Linked DNA regions of Homo sapiens: region 1 is linked to region 2. Evidence: fine-mapped expression QTL. A gene starts in region 2. The other region holds a variant in brackets. All regions are shown on one strand. Distances are from middle to middle. Region 1 overlaps ZNF341 (zinc finger protein 341). Region 2 holds the start of E2F1 (E2F transcription factor 1).

Evidence for each region. PIP is the estimated chance that this variant, and not a neighbour inherited with it, causes the effect.
Region 1: its variant is fine-mapped to the expression of E2F1 in whole blood (TOPMed, PIP above 0.99).

The regions. Positions count from the first base shown.
Region 1 is chr20:33,768,837-33,774,205 of GRCh38, reverse strand. It overlaps ZNF341 (zinc finger protein 341), which reads right to left. Exons shown (of 15, transcript NM_001282933.2): 10 at 3,914-4,122. Among named protein-coding and RNA genes, the nearest start is that of ZNF341, 40 kb to the right of the region's middle. RefSeq lists an enhancer at 625-694. The variant T/C (reference allele first, on the strand shown) is at 2,129.
Region 2 is chr20:33,683,127-33,688,495 of GRCh38, reverse strand. E2F1 (E2F transcription factor 1) reads left to right here and starts at 2,111. Exons shown (of 7, transcript NM_005225.3): 1 at 2,111-2,492. The coding sequence starts at 2,232. RefSeq lists silencers at 1,772-2,271, 2,382-2,741.

The DNA.
Region 1 (5,369 bases), 86 kb before region 2:
ATTCTCCTGCCTCAGGCTCCGGAGTGGCTGGGACTACAGGAGTGTGCCACCACACCCAGCTAATTTTTTTTTTTTTTTTTTTTTTTTTAGTAGAGACAGGGTTTCACTGTGTTGGCCAGGCTGGTCTCAAACTCCTGACCTCAAGTGATCTGCCCTCCTCGGACTCCCAAAGTGCTGGGATTACAAGAGTGAGCCACTGCACCCAGCCAAATCTTATTTTTTAAAAGGAAATATTAAACATACAGTAAAGATATAGTGGCATGACTAAAAGTCATTTGAGAGGTTTGGGGAAAGTACACATAGGCAGGCCAAGGCAATGTGGCTGACAGGGAACAGAAACCAGAATGACAGGGCTTGGACTTCTAAAGATATGATGAAGCCACCACAGCCACTCAAATGTCACTATGAGACAGAATCAACTCTCATGGTGTATAAGTCACTGTTATTTGAGGTTTCTACTGCATGCAGCCAAACTTCTACTTAAATAACACAAATAATAATAATTGTAGCAATAACATTTATTGAGTACCTACTATGTTCCAGGTACCATGTCTAAGAGCCTCAGCCTTGTCTTACTTGATCCTTATAAATAATCCAGTAGGGCAGGCACTACTGTGATCCCCATTTCACAGAGGAGAAAACCGAGGCTCAGAGTGGCTGAATACCTTGCCCAAGGTCATCCACTGGATTTGCAGTCAAGACAGGATTTAAGCACAGGCCAATGGCTCCAGAACCCTTATCACTACCCATGACACCATTCCACCTTCAGGCCATCCAAATGGGGGCCTGGCTCATTGGGCCTTACTTTTGGGACAGGACAACAGCTCCAATGTCTACAAAGGGCCACTGGCACTATGACCCTGCAAGGGGACTGCACAGGGTCATCAGCATCGGGCTCAATCTTCAACCTGCAAACTCCAAGACCAGGGCTATGAGGCTTCCAAGATCTCACACTAGGGTTCGAATCTAAACTCTGCTGATGTTGTTACTCTGGTGGGCAGGTCACTTCTCTTTGAACCTCAGTGTCTTCATCTTCAAAATGGGGAGAATATCACCTACCTCCCAGGGCTGCAGGGATTCATGTCACTAAAGGCAAAGCTTGGCACAGAGCAGGTGCTTCCTTCCCTTTACTTGGCATCTCACTCCAGAGTCACACAGCCACAGGAACTCACAGATAATCCACAAATCAGAAGGGCAAGAGCCAAAGAAAATTTATCAAGTGCAAACGGGAATAAGTCATCACTGCCAGAAATCTCTGCCCCTTGGCTGGCCAAAGCTTTGCCCAGCTTCCCTGCCTCTCTTGCCCCATTTCCCAGAGTCTTGGGGGCAAGTTACCCTACACCCCATTTCTTGAGTTCTAGCTCCTCTGCCAACTTCTCAGAGCTCTTGTGATTTCTACGTGGCCCTTCATGCCTTGGCCCCACTTTTTCCCATAGGCCCCATCTAAACATCTCCCTCCCGCTTCCACTCCACATAACAGTCATTCTATTAATACATCACTTGCTGTTGTATTTTAAACTTGCGGTTCCTCCTGATAGGAACACACTCCATCCATTGTCTACCTGGCAAACTCCTATTCATCCTTCAAAACTCAGTTCAGATGTCACTGCTCTTGGGACAGCTTCTCTAGCCTGCCTCCCCTGTGGTATCTCTATACCTTATAAACATATATGATAGCATTTTATCAAGTGATAGGGTGCATTTGTTTACACACCAGTCACCCTGAGCAGCCCATGCATTTTAAGCTCAAGGTATTTACTTATCTCTGAACCCCAGAAGCTTCACCCAGGAGTTACAGGGGCCTCATTAACAGAAACACCAAATCTCTGCAGGTACAAGTTTGTACAGAGAAGCAAAAACCACTGTAATGGGAAAATATTTGCTAATGAACTGGAAGGAGGCCCCACACAAACACCACTCCTGGCCTTTTGCTACTATCTACCCCCATGGGTTTTGTGAGGCAGGTGCTCCCAGATGATGCAGGCAAATGTACAGCAAAATGACTGCAGATGGGGGATTTCATGACATCATCAAAGTGATGTTGCACAACTGCAAATAACACCATCAACAAAGGAAGACCTGGCAAAACAGACCAGAAAACAACTGAGGCAGAGAAACTCAACAAGGA[T/C]GATCAGAGGTCAATAGGTCCAAAGAGAATGACGTGAAGATCTTTTTTTTTTTTTTTTTTTTTTTTTAAGACAAGCGTCTCTGTCGCTCAGGCTGAGTGCAGTGGCGCGATGATGGCTCACAGCAGCCTTAACCTCCTGGGCTCAAGCAATCCTACCATCTCAGCCTCCTGAGTAGCTGGGACTACGGGTGCGTGCCAACACACCTGGCTAATTTTTCTATTTTTGTTGAGACAAGGTCTTGCTATGTTGCCCAGACTGGTTTCAAACTCCTGGGCTCAAGCCATCCTCCCACCTCAGCCTCCCCAAATGCTAGGATTATAGGCGTGAGCCACTGTGCCCTGCTTTAACATGAAGATCTAAGGATAAAAAGCATGTTGCAAAACTGAGGAAACCTTTCATCATTTCTGCCAAAGGGACCCTCTTCATGACCACAATGGAAGACTGAAGTGATATAAATGATTATCAGAATAAATTACCCCAATAAAATCCATACCTGATCCATCCCTTGTTCATTCTAAGAATCATCATATAGGCTGGGCACAGTGGCTCACGCCTGTAATCCTAGCATTTTGGGAGGCTAAGGTGGGAGGATCACTTGAGTCCAGGAATTCAAGACCAGCCTGAGCAACATGGCGAAACCCCGTCTCTACAAAAAATACAAAAATTAGCTGGGCGTGGGGCACATGCCTGTTAGTCCCAGCTACTCAGGTGGCTGAGGTGGGAGGATCACCTGAGCCCGGGGAGGCTGCAGTGAGCTGTGATGGTGCCACTGGACTCCAACCTGGGCAACAGAGCAAAACCCCATCTCAAAGAAAAAAATAAAATAAAAATAGGAATCAGCATATAGCTTCAACTTTAACCTAGATCTTATAGATTATAAAACAAATGAATATTATTTTTATGATCTTTGCTTTTAAACATGTTACCGTTCATTTTATTGTATTTTATTTTTTTTGAGACGGAGTGTTGCTCTGTCGCCCAGGCTGGAGTGCAGTGACACGGTCTCAGCTCACTGCAAGCTCTGCCTCCCGGGTTCACGTCATTCTCCTGCCTCAGCCTCCCAAGTAGCTGGGACTACAGGCGCCCACCACCACGCCCGGCTAATTTTTTTTGTATTTTTAGTAGAGACGGGGTTTCACCGTGTTAGCCAGGATGGTCTCCATCTCCTGACCTCATCATCTGCCCGCCTCAGCCTCCCAAAGTGCTGGGATTACAGGTGTGAGCCACCACGCCCAGCCAACTGTTCATTTTAAAATGTATTTTATTTTGTAGAGATGGGGTCTCATTATGTTGCCAGGCTGGTCTCAAACTCCTGGCCTCCTTCTGCCTTGGCCTCCCAAAGTACTGGGGTTACAGATGTGGGCCGCCACACCCTGCCCATTCTTTTTTAATTGTTAAGAACCGGTGTACCGCTTTGACTGTAAGCTAAATTTTGTAGATTATGAGACAAAATAATACTGTCATAATTGTTTAGTTTGGAATAAAATGCTCAAACCTTTTCCCACTATGAACAAGGAAATATAGGTTCCTCTTTTTAAGGATTTTTTTTTGGGAAAAATGTCTGCCAAGACATAAGAATGATATAAGGAGAGCCAGCATCCTTTCTTCCACCAGTGCCAAAGCCCAGAACCCACTCTGCCAGGCTGGACCCCAGCCAGGAGCCTCGGTTTCTCCTTTCAAATATCTCACTGGTCCTAAGCAGTCAGAACCACCAAGGCCACAGGCCCTGGGCTCCCTGCCCACCCACCCGTCCACCCAGGGAGAGGGAAGCAGGAGGCACTTACTTGTAGACGGCATTGTCCTTCTTGGGGCTGTGCTGTGGCAGGAGGCTGTGGGAGTACTGGTGCACGCCCAGGTCGTACAGCGAGGGGAAGTCCTTGCCGCAGAGGTGGCAGCGGTAGCTCAGCTCCTCCTGGTGGCTCTTGATGTGCTCCAGAAATGTGTCGAGCTTTGGGAACGTCTGGGCACAGCTTTTGACCACACACTTGTACACCTTGAGGGAAGACGCTGGGCAGGTGACAGGAGGCAGGAGAGCTTCCTCCACTGCAGCCCCTGGCCTGTGGCATTGGCCTTGGACACTGATGGTAAATGATCTGACCACTGCTCCCTCTGCCCCCCTGCTGCTACTGGATCCCAGGGTTTTTATTCATTCATTCATTCATTTTTGAGACTGAGTCGCACTCTATCGCCCAGGCTGGAGTGCAGTGGTACAATCTCGGCTCACTGCAACCTCCACTTCACAGGTTCAAGCGATTCTCCTGCCTCAGCCTCCCCAGTAGCTGGGATTACAGGTGCACACCACCATGCCCAGCTAATTTTTGTATTTTTAGTAGAGACGGGGTTTCACCACATTGGCCAGGCTGGTCTCGAACTCCTGACCTCAAGTGATCCACCCGCCTTGGGCTCCCAAAGTGATGGGATTACAGGCATGAGCCACTGTGCCCAGCCCCTTGTTTTAACTTGATTAGAGGGTTCCCTCCTCTCAGCCAGTCGTGATGGCCCTATTACCCTTCCCTCAGGCTCTGTGTGGCATAGGTATATTTAGAAAAATTATTCAAGACCTGGAAATACAGTGAAAAGATGACAGTGTATACCCTTTCAATGTCATACTGGAATACCGGCTCTCAAACTGGAGCAGGCCTCAGAATTACAGGTTGCTGAGGGCTGTGCCCCCGCCACCCCTCCCACTGCCCCCCCCCCCACCACCACCCCTTCACCCCCTCCCTGGCCCTGAGAAATCTGACTTAGTGGGTCTGAATATGTGCATCACTAACGAGAAATCCTCAGGGGATGCTGGTGCTGCTGGCCTGGGACTTTGAGAACTGCTGTCTAAGGAGCCTGCCTATAGCCGGCCCACAGTCATCACACTCTCTACAGGATGTGGCTACTTCTGACTACTTTCCATTGACTAGGACTCTACAGTTAAATGTTAATTTGTTAATTTGTAAAAAACTAATCCAACGTAATTGATTTTTGTCAGATAGAGAAGATAACCCCAAAGGTCACAGGTTTTGTTGTCTTGCAGGACATTAACCAGATTTGTATGTAATTTGACAATCTGACTTCAGTATCTCTTTTTTTCATTGACAGTTATTAGGCATAGCTATCCATGGCCTCTGTTGAACAGGCTTTGTCTTCCTTTGGGTTTCCTCACTAATGAGTTAAGTAAAATTCTGACTCACTTTCAGGCCTCATTTGTATGAGAAGTATGTTTTTAACATCTCGAAAATCATACTTTGA
Region 2 (5,369 bases):
GGCAGACCTCAGGGCTGGGAATGCAGTGTAGGCCCAATTTGGTCACTGGTTGGCTTCACAGTTACTTTCTCCTGAAAGGGCCTCAGTTTTCCTATCCATACAGCAAGAGGCTTATGTGGTCTCTGTGGTCCCTTCTAGCTATGATACATTCTAGGATTTGCAATGAGTAATTTCAGAAACTACTCATTGGAGGGGAAAACAACTCCTGATTTCCTAAACCACCTCATAGTTTGTAAAACACTTTCCAATTCCTTATGCTTTTCATTCTCCTGGCAACCCTGGAAGGGGCCAGGGCAAGGTCTGTGTGCCCATTTGAAACTAAGGGTGAGAAGCATCCTCAGGAGCTGTGATTTGAGGCTGCACCACTCATTTTGATTATGCTGGTACACCAGTTTGCTTTCAAATGTGAGTATGCATAAAAATAACCTGGAAGCTTGGTGAGGTGGCAGTCACCTGGAGTACCAGCTATGCTGGAGGCTGAGGCGGGAGGATCTCTTGAGCCCAGGGGTTTGAGACTACCCTGGGCAACATAGTGAGACCTCGTCTATATAAAATAAATAGGAAAAAAAAAATAAGATACTGGCTTTTCTAATTCCCTAAGTGTCAAAAAAAAAAAAAGAAAAAGAATAACAAATATCACCTGGAAAGGGGACATGGCATTGTTAAAATGCAGATTCTTGGGCACCTAGAGATTTTAAATTGGCAGGGCCAGGGTGGGCCCAAAATTAGCAAGTGACCACGTGGTTCTGAAGCCAGTGGCCTAAGGACCACCCTTGCAGAACCGTGGTCTCCTTGTCACAGTCTAGGCAGCCTCTGGCTTAGCCTCTGTTTCTTTCATAACCTTTCTCAGCGCCTGCTCTGGGCCAGACCAGTGTTGGGAGGAGTCGCTACTGAGCTCCTAGATTGGCAGGGGAGGCAGATGGAGAAAAGGAGTGTGTGTGGTCAGCATTGGAGCAGAGGCAGCAGTGGGCAATAGAGGAAGTGAGTAAATCCTTGGGAGGGCTCCCTAGAAGTGATGTGTTTTCTTTTTTTGTTTTAGAGACAGGATCTCGCTCTGTCGCCCAGGCTGGTGTGCAGTGGCATGATCATAGCTCACTGCAGCCTCGACTTCTCGGGCTCAAGCAATCCTCCCACCTCAGCCTCCCAAGTAGCTGGGACTACGGGCACACGCCACCATGCCTGGCTAATTTTTGTATTTTTTGTAGAGATGGGTCTTCACCATGTTGATCAGGCTGGTCTCGAACTCCTGGGCTCATGCGATCCACCCCGCCAGCTGATTACAGGGATTCCGGTGGTGAGCCACCGCGCCCAGACGCCACTTCATCGTATTGTAAACGTCTGTTACCTTTCTGTTCCCCTGTCTACTGGACTGTGAGCTCCTTAGGGCCACGAATTGAGGATGGGGCACAGAGCAAGCTCTCCAAACGTTTGTTGAATGAGTGAGGGAATGAATGAGTTCAAGCAGATGCTATACGTTGGCTGTTGGAGATTTTGGCTAAAATGGGACTTGCAGGAAAGCCCGACGTCCCCCTCGCCATTTCCAGGCACCGCTCTTCAGCTTGGGCTCTGGGTGAGCGGGATAGGGCTGGGTGCAGGATTAGGATAATGTCATGGGTGAGGCAAGTTGAGGATGGAAGAGGTGGCTGATGGCTGGGCTGTGGAACTGATGATCCTGAAAAGAAGAGGGGACAGTCTCTGGAAATCTAAGCTGAGGCTGTTGGGGGCTACAGGTTGAGGGTCACGTGCAGAAGAGAGGCTCTGTTCTGAACCTGCACTATAGAAAGGTCAGTGGGATGCGGGAGCGTCGGGGCGGGGCGGGGCCTATGTTCCGGTGTCCCCACGCCTCCAGCAGGGGACGCCCGGGCTGGGGGCGGGGAGTCACACCGCGCCTGGTACCATCCGGACAAAGCCTGCGCGCGCCCCGCCCCGCCATTGGCCGTACCGCCCCGCGCCGCCGCCCCATCCCGCCCCTCGCCGCCGGGTCCGGCGCGTTAAAGCCAATAGGAACCGCCGCCGTTGTTCCCGTCACGGCCGGGGCAGCCAATTGTGGCGGCGCTCGGCGGCTCGTGGCTCTTTCGCGGCAAAAAGGATTTGGCGCGTAAAAGTGGCCGGGACTTTGCAGGCAGCGGCGGCCGGGGGCGGAGCGGGATCGAGCCCTCGCCGAGGCCTGCCGCCATGGGCCCGCGCCGCCGCCGCCGCCTGTCACCCGGGCCGCGCGGGCCGTGAGCGTCATGGCCTTGGCCGGGGCCCCTGCGGGCGGCCCATGCGCGCCGGCGCTGGAGGCCCTGCTCGGGGCCGGCGCGCTGCGGCTGCTCGACTCCTCGCAGATCGTCATCATCTCCGCCGCGCAGGACGCCAGCGCCCCGCCGGCTCCCACCGGCCCCGCGGCGCCCGCCGCCGGCCCCTGCGACCCTGACCTGCTGCTCTTCGCCACACCGCAGGCGCCCCGGCCCACACCCAGTGCGCCGCGGCCCGCGCTCGGCCGCCCGCCGGTACGGACCCCAGGGACGCCGCGCCGACAGCGCCGCCTGTGCCCCCCGCGCAGACCCGGGAGGGCGCCGTGTTTGGCCTGGAGGCGGCAGGGGGCGGGGGAGGGGTTGACTGAGGCGCCCAGGCTGGGCGGTGCAGAGCCGGGGTTGGGCCTCCGGGCCCCGCCCTGGGGTGCGGGGTGACCTCGGGCCGGTCCCTGTTTGCTGCTCTGTGCTCTGCGCCTCAGCTTCCTCACCGGAGCCTCCCCAGCGTCGGACTCAGTGATAATAATAGCCCACGTGTATTCAACTGGCGTTTACTGCATGCCAGGCCTTTGGGCGACTTCAAGCCAGCTAAAACTCACAACCCCGCTGTGAGCTGTGTTGTCACTGTGCCCATCTGACGGAGGAGGAACTGAGGCCCAGAGAGGGAAAGTGACTTGCCCCTGGTCACACGGCTGCAGGTGGTGGGGCTGGGATTTGAACTGAGGCCTGCTGGCTTCAGCTCAGAATTTGCATCTCGGTAGTGAGCACAGCTGCTAGGGGAAGTGAAGGCGGGGCGGAGGAAAGTCCTGGGGCCTAACCGTTGGTGAGCCATTGAGGAGACCCTCCTTCCTGCCTCGATGCTGACTGCCAGGTGCAGGCCTGGCCGGCCAGGCCTCTGGGGACAGCCCTCCTGGCTGGGAGGCCTTCTCTGCAGGGGCGGGGCAGCTGGACCAGCTGCTGATCCCCTCCCTCTGCCTGTCCTTCCATCTGCCACCCTCCACCCTCCCAGGCCCTGGTTGCCATGGAACCTCATTAATCAGGCAGGCCGACCCCTGAGTCTCTGTAGAAGGACTAGGTGGGCTGGGCCTCTGGGAGCTGGAGAGGAGGCCCCCAGTGCCAGGAGAGAAAATGTCTCAGGGAGATCCTTTAATAAAGCCCTCCCTGATCGCTGAGCTCAAGACGAATTCAGACTGGAGGGCCCAGAAGAGGCGGCTGAATTCCAGTGGGAGAAGGGATTGGAGGCGTAGAAGCCTGGAGCTGGGAACTGTGGGGCACAGGGCAGGGTGTGGAGACCAGTTTGACTGGCGCAGCCTATGGGTGAAGGTGGGGCTCTGGTGTGCAGGCGGGGTCTGGCCAGGCAGGATGGGGTCTCAGCAGGGAACTTGGAGCAAGTGGGAGGGGTGAGGCAGGACTCAGGACAAGGAGGTAGAAGCTGCCTAACTGCTGATGGGGGTGTGGGTGGCAGCTGGTCCCTGAGGCATCCTGAGGAGGCTCCCCCAACCCCCTTGGCCCCATGCCCAGTGCTGCCTTCCGGAATCACCACAATGCTAATAATAATAACAATAGCAGCCACCATTGTTTTGAGGATGTCTTGTGTGCCAGGCTCTGTGCCAAGCGCTTTACTTAATTAACTCATTTAACCCCATCAGCAGCAGTCCCTTTTTACAGATTGGGAAGCTGAGGCCTAGAGATGTTAGAATCTTCCCATGTCATTCTGCTCTTGAGTGGGGAGAGCAGTCTGCGTTTCCTCTGAGGTTGACCTCTGGGATGCCTTGCTTTCTGGGGATGCTGATACAGGTTGAAGAAAGGGCAAGAAGGGCTTTTAGGGGCCCTCCCTCTTAATGAGTGGGTGGGAGGGGGTTGTACCAGGGGTGGGCCAGGTGGCCTGTCTCCTGTACTCCAGGGGCCTGTTCCTGTGGGTACCACTTGGGACCTGGGCAAGCATCTTCCATTCAGCTGTGTGACAAGCATTATAGAAGGCTCAGGTCTGCGGAAATCTAACAACCTGAGGGTCTTGTCCTCAAAGATCTGAACAGGATTATGGGTTCTAGGATCAAAGGGAGGGACAGGGGCAAAGAAAAATGCCCTCCACTCCACCTGTCAGGGGCAGGCTCATTGGCCTGGGCATTCCATTCATTCAACAGTTGTTGAGTTAGTGAATGCCCAGGAGGCACTAGGCCCAGAGACAAGGAGCCCTGGCCCCCAGTGTACTTAAGGGCCAGGAGGCTGGCACCATTCTGGAACTGAAGTCCAGAAAGTCCACAGGTTTGGCTTTTGGCCTCTCTGCACTGGCATTTGTCTGGCACAGTCCTTGAAATAAGCTACAGGCTTAGCTTCTATACCAGCAGGCATTCTGTATACAAGGCTCTGCAATTCAGCCATTCCTCTTGGCCCTGCCTGTCCACTTCCACAAACTCAAGTATTATAACTATAATACATGTTTAATGTAGAAAACTTAACTTTTTTATTTATTTATTTATTTTTTTTTTGGAGACAGGGTCTCATTCTGTTACCCAGGCTGGAGTGCAGTGGCGTGATTGCGGCTCACTGCAACCTCTGCCTCCCAAGTTCAAGCTATTCTGTGCCTCAGCCTCCCGAGTAGCTGGGATTACAGGCGTGTACCACCATGCCCAGCCAATTTTTGTATTTTTAGTAGAGAGAGGGTCTTGCCATGTTGCCCAGGCTGGTCTTGAACTCCTGAGTTCAGACAATCTGACTGTCTCAGCCTCTCAAAGTGCTGGGATTACAGGTGTGAGTCACCATGCCCAGCTGAAAACTTAACTCTTAACTCTTTTTTTTTTTTTTTTTTTTGAGATGAAGTCTCGCTCTGTCACCTAGGTTGGAGTACAGTGGCGCCATCTCGGCTCACCGCAACCTCTACCTCCTGGGTTCAAGCGATTCTTCTGCCTCAGCCTCCCGAGTAGCTGGGACTACAGACGTGCACCACCATACCCGGCTAATTTTTGTATTTTTGGTAGAGATGAGGTTTCACCATATTGGTCAGGCTGGTCTTGAACTCCTGACCTCAAGTGATCTGCCCGCCTCGGCCTCCCAAAGTGCCAGGATTACAGGCGTGAGCCACTGCGCCTGGCCAAAAACTTAACTCTTAAGAAACTAGAAAGTTGACGGCAGGAT